2 separate regions of the Homo sapiens genome follow, and region 1 is linked to region 2. Evidence: fine-mapped expression QTL. A gene starts in region 2. The other region holds a variant in brackets. All regions are shown on one strand. Distances are between the middles of the regions.

What was found. PIP is the estimated chance that this variant, and not a neighbour inherited with it, causes the effect. A credible set is the group of variants that fine-mapping cannot tell apart.
Region 1: its variant is the best candidate, but not a certain one, in a credible set for the expression of PCYOX1L in stomach (GTEx, PIP 0.67).

What each region holds. Positions count from the first base shown.
Region 1 is chr5:149,390,544-149,393,457 of GRCh38, forward strand. It overlaps a transcript of IL17B not described here. Among named protein-coding and RNA genes, the nearest start is that of IL17B, 13 kb to the left of the region's middle. The variant G/A (reference allele first, on the strand shown) is at 1,307.
Region 2 is chr5:149,356,729-149,359,642 of GRCh38, forward strand. It overlaps PCYOX1L (prenylcysteine oxidase 1 like), which reads left to right and starts at 1,318. Exons shown (of 6, transcript NM_024028.4): 1 at 1,318-1,428. The coding sequence starts at 1,341. It overlaps GRPEL2-AS1 (GRPEL2 antisense RNA 1), which reads right to left and starts at 914. Exons shown (of 2, transcript NR_132366.1): 1 at 797-914. RefSeq lists an enhancer at 1,078-1,372 and silencers at 1,098-1,147, 1,168-1,327, 1,348-1,557.

The DNA.
Region 1 (2,914 bases), 34 kb after region 2:
TCCCAAGTTTTCCAAATCTCACAGCACCTCCATCCCTGAGTTAGCACACACACACACACACACACACACACACACACACACACACACAGAGATACACAAGGCCCTCCAAGTCCCTTCGCCAACCCAGCTCTGAAAACGCTTAAAGCTAGGTAAGTGATTTCCAAAGTAGGGTGTCATTTGAGGCTTAGGAAGACTATCAGGTCTTCTATTTTTACCTCTGTCTTTTCTCATTTCTATTTTTTATTTGTGTTAAAGGAACATATTAGTATAATAGCTCTTTATAGAATTTATAAATAAATATTTATTTTTAAAAATAACTTTAAATTAAAATTTTTTTAATAAACTGTTATTTATTGTTAGGAGTTTATGGTCAAAAAGGGTTGGGACCCCTGGACCAGGATTTTGGTTTTTTGTGGGGAGTTTTTCCTTTGTGTTTTGTTTTGTTTTGAGAGAACCTGATTCTGTCACCCAGGCTGGAGTACAATGGCGCTATCTCAGCTCACTGCAATCTCCACCTCCCAGGTTCAAGCCTCCCACCTCAGCCTCCTGAGTAGCTGGGATTACAGGCACCTGCCATCATCCCCAGCTAATTTTTGTATTTTTGTAGAGATGGGATTTTACCATGTTGGCCAGACTGGTCTTGAACTCCTGACCTCAGGTGATCTGCTCGTCTTGGCCTCCCAAACTGCTGGGATTACAGACGTGAGCCACTGCGCCCAGCGTTGGACCAGGATTTTGAACACAAAGCCTCTTAACTCTGGGTGGGATGGTCCCAGCCTGTCGGGACTGGGAAGAGCAGGGAGAAAGACACCCAGGCTTAGAGGCATGGAGAACCTCAGCCACGGGGGTGTCACCAAGTGACTGCCTGCCCCAGGCACAAAGTCTCTTTCCTTTAACACCAGGATAAAATGGCTTCAGTTCCCAACCCACACAATCAGAGAATGCAGGGAATTCTTCCCAATTTTAGAGTTTTAGGGGGCTTAAGTTTCTCCTAAATTAGTCCTTGGCACAGCCTGCTGTTTCACAGTGCTGGCTCCTGATTTGGGCTCCTGTCTCTGAGGCTACTACCCATTCCTCCAACCACTGGGCCCCCTAAGCACCTCTCCTTCATCTCTCAAGTGTCATTCCTGGGAATGCAATTCTGGAAGCATGGCAGGCCCGTCACTGAGCTGTCAGTGGAGGAGGGTGATTGAACTGTGTGCAATGGAGGACGGCGACTGGCCGGTGTGCAATAGAGGAGGGTGACTGACTGGTGTGCATGACTTCACCATTGGCTATAAGCTCTGCAAGCCTAAAGGTCACTGTC[G/A]TGACCCCAGGAACTTCTCATCGGCCTTGTCTCACATTAGTCCTCAGCCTCCTACAGTTCCCAGGCCTCCTCCTTCAAAGGATGTCCTCCTTTCTCCCCATGCCCTGCCCTCTTCCCCAGCTTCTCATCCCCTTACTCTCTCTCCCAGGCTGCCTGGAGAAACTCAAAATTTCTGTGACACAGGCCTCTTGTACATTGCAAGTGGGAGTACACAATGGTTACAACCTCCATGAGGGAGGTGGGTAACGGGATAGAGTAATATCTATGAGAATCACAAATGCACAAGGACTTTGATCCAACAATCGCTCTTCTACGCCTTTGTCCAACAGAGGCAGCCCCATGTGGAAATGACACAAAGACCAGGACAGGCTTTGCAGCATTGTTTGTAATCACAAAGGACTTTTACTTCTATCTTTTCTAATTTCTATCTTGTATTTGTGTTAAAGGAATCTGTTAGTACAATAGCATCCTCAAAGTGCTCATCCTTATAGGATGGGTTGCATGACTTATGGCACTTCCGTGCAGTGGAACCCTATCCAACCATTCAAAGAATGAGGCAGCCCGCTGTAGAATGATACACTCCAATAGCCAATAGCTGTTATTAAGTAAATGAAGTAAGGTGCATAAGAATGTGAATAGTACACCCCAATCTGTACCCCAAAAATGCAGGGACTGTACATATGTATACTTGTAAGTGTATGTGCTTGCATTTGCATAGACTCTCTGGAAGTCTATATAAAAATTTAGAGTGATTTTCTCTGGGGAGGGGAATGGGTTGATAAGGGAGTGGGGTTAGAAGGGAAGTTACTCTTCACAGAACACCCTTTGTACCTCTGTGATGGTGACAATGTATAGATATTATCTATTCAAACAATAAATACTATTTTTAAATGAAAACATAAATTGCTGTTACTGTATGCTGTGGATCATTTCATTCTCTCTCTTTCTCTCCCTCTGGAGGCTGGGCCCAAGAGGCCTTACCTTTGAGTCAATAACGTCATCTAGAAGTGAGTCATGTCTTACCCTCTAAGGCTGAAACAACCACAGTCTCTGCATCTGTGTACGTGTGTGTGCATGTGTGTGTACGTGCGTGTGTGCGTGCGTGTGTGCGTGTGTGTGCGCGCGTGCGTGTGTGTGTGCGTGTGTGTGCTGCGTGTGTGCATGTCTGCGTGTGTGTGGGCGTGTGTGTGCGTGTGTGTGCGCATGTGTGTCTGCGTGTGTGAGATTGTTTTCCCCTTTCCTTCCTCAGCAGCAAGTTACCTAACCCGTTTATTGTACAAATAGAAAAACTGAGGCCCAATCACCCACCCAATGTCACCCAGAAAGTCATCCTCTGAGTGGCTCTGAATCCAGCCTCTGGGCTTTGACTTATGCTGTTCCCTTTGCTTCAATGCCCTTCTCTGCCGTTTTTACTCTTCAGGTCGCAGTGCACGCTTCCAAGAAGCTTCCCAGATCCCTCAGTAGGAAATGAGCTTTCAGTGTGCCCTATGCATCCCTGTGGCTCCGTACAAATTAGCAATTGGCTCTTTACCTACCTGCCTTCCCCAACAGAGGGTGGACGTTCCCTGAAAGCAAGGACTTGGTCTTCATCTCTAGAGCCCCAGGCCT
Region 2 (2,914 bases):
CCAGCTAATTTTTGCATTTTAGCAGAGATGAGGTTTCACCATGATGGCCGAGCTGGTCTCGAACTCCTGACCTCAAGTGATCTGCCCACCTCGGCCTCCCAAACTGCTGGGATTACAGGCATGAGCCACTGTGCCCGGCCCAGTTTCTTATTTTAGCCATAATCTCACTGAGTAAATATGGATTTCATTTATTTTTATATATTTATTTATTTTTAAAGACAGGGACTCTTGTCACTCAGGCTGGAGTGCAGTGGCACAATCATAGAACACTGTAACCTCAAACTACCGGTCTCAAGCCTCCCACCTCTGCCTCCTGAATAGCTAGGACTACAGGTGTGCACCACCACTCCTGGCGAATTTTTTTTTTTTAAGAGACGGGGTCTCAGAGTCTCATTATGTTGCCCAGGCTGGTCTCAAACTGCTGGCCTAAGCGATCCTCCCGCCTGACCTTCCAAAATGCTGGGATTACAGGCTTGAGCCACCCCCAGCCTCCGGATTTTCTTTATTCTGAAACTCATCCCTAACTTTATTTTCTGCCAGAGGAAGTCTGTTTTTCACAGCGTGATAAACTAGCAAGTCTGAGCTGCTGCTCTTGTCTTCTTAGAGGATGAAAATGGGAGTTTATCCCTCCTTTTCTCCTTTCTGAAAAGAGAGTAGATGAAACCTTCCCCCGCCTTTTGGTTTTTAGGAAGCAGAAAGCAGAGATATTAACTATATAAAAACTGCAAACACATAAATAACAGCAGTATAGAAAGCATAGGGCTTGTGTCAGCATATGAATGAGGTAGCGTCTTACCACCCTGGCCGCATGCTTGGTCAGCAATTTCCAGCACTTGCAGACACTGCAAAAGGCTTCCCTTATCTCATAAGATGGTTACAACCACCTAGAAAGGTGGAGCAGGATTCTTCGTCTGTGTTATAATAGAGGAAACAGACACAGAGAAGATACAGAGCTAATAACGCAGAGGCTGGACATAACCGAGGTCTTCAAAGCTTCACTTTGGTCTGTTTCATCCCTCTGCCGCAGCTGGGCCCTGGTCCTGATGCTGAGGACCCGAAGCGGGCACACCTGCGCCGGGCAAGAATGAACCCAGCCAATGAGGAGCCCGCATGCGGGGGGCGGGGCGGAACGGGGAAGCTGCCAATGAGAGAGCCTACCCCGAGAGAGATGGAGCTAATGAGGGCCTCGTGCTGGAGAGGGACGGCGGCTTGGCCAATGCGGAGCTGGGTCTGGCGCGGCAGGAAGGCGGGACTGCCAGTGGGGCGCCGGGGCGGGGCGGAGAGCCGAGCGCCAACCCGCTAGCGCCTGAATCCGGCGTGCTGCCCGCTCGCCGCCCGCCATGGCCCGCGCAGCCCCGCTGCTCGCCGCGTTGACCGCGCTCCTCGCCGCCGCCGCTGCTGGCGGAGATGCCCCGCCGGGCAAAATCGGTGCGGGAAGGACGCGGTGGGGTTCCCAGCTGGGGAGGGCCGGCGGGTAAAGGGTTCTCAGTTCTCAGCTAGGTGGGGTATAGGAGGGCGGCTGGGTGAGGGAGGGGTCCTCGGAAAAGGAGCTGGGTGGAGGAGAGGCGCCGAAGGGGACGCGGCAGGGAAGGTCCTGATGGGGCCGGGGCATGGCATGTGAAGAGGGCCACCTAGGACGGAAAAGAGGCCTGGGCAGGACTGGCCGCGGATCTCACCGGGAGGTCCAGGGTCGCTGAGCATCTGCCATGGTCCTGGCTGTTGGCTAGGCGCCCGGGTGACAGAGGACAGAGAGGCTGGGCGATGGCATTCACAGAGGTTGGTTGAGGGCTCTCTGTGTAGCAGACGTGGTGCTGTAGTTCCTGCTGGGGTAGAGCCCTCACAGTACAGGGAAGTCCGTGCTGAGCTGAGGAAGTACGGTGCATGCAGAGGAGGGGCGCTTCACCCTGTCTTTGCGGCCCTGGGAGGGCTTCCTGGAAGTAACATCTAAGCCAAACCACCCCCAGGTCGATAGGAGACAGTCCTGGCAGAGACAGAACACTAGGTCCGCTGGAGATTTGCTGACAGAACGGGGAACTTTTAACAACAGTCTTTTTGTTTATTGTGTGTGTGGTTTCCCCAATACTTTATTTTGAAAATGTTCAGATGTACAGCAAGAATTTTATAGTGGTCATCTGTATACCCACCACCTACATTCTGCCATTAACTGCTGCTATACTTGCTGTGTCACATAACTATCACGCACTGTTCTAGACATCCACGAATCCAGCCTACATTTTGATGCATCTCCAAATAAATTGCAGACATCAGGACACCTCACTAAATACGTCATCGTGCATATCATTGACTAGAGTGTCATATGTGTTTACAGTTGCTTTTTTTTTTCCTCCCTCAACAACTGTCATTTTAACTACATGACTCGTGAAGATTTTCAAGTCCCTCACACGTGATATTCCCACAGGCAGAGATCCTGGGCTTCGGGGTGGGAGGACAAAGACTCTATTCCGCTAGGCCACTCTCCATGCACCCCAGTTGGCAGGAGTGCCTGGAACATCTGATAGAAGCATCACAAACTTACAGGGTCCAGTGCAGTGCTAAAGCTTCTTGTGTAGCAGAACCACAGCCCAGGCCATACAGGGTTAAGAAGACTGAAGCATGCCAGAAACCAGTTTGAGACTGAGAGTTTAGTGCTTGCCAAGAAAAGAGAATCCTGAGGCTAGAGTAGCCAGAGAAGCCCTCATGGAGAAGGTGGAGTTTGAGCCAGGCATTGAAGGATGTGGAAGAGTTAGGCAGGCAGTATCCATGAGTGACCATGTGTTCTCTCTCTGTCCTTAGATCGTTTGAATACAGTGTGGCTAGGAGTAAGCAGAGTGTGCTGTGGGAATATGCAGGGCACTCCCCGTTTTCTTAGGAACAGGCAACAGGACAGGACATTTCTCACCATTGGGGAAGGAGC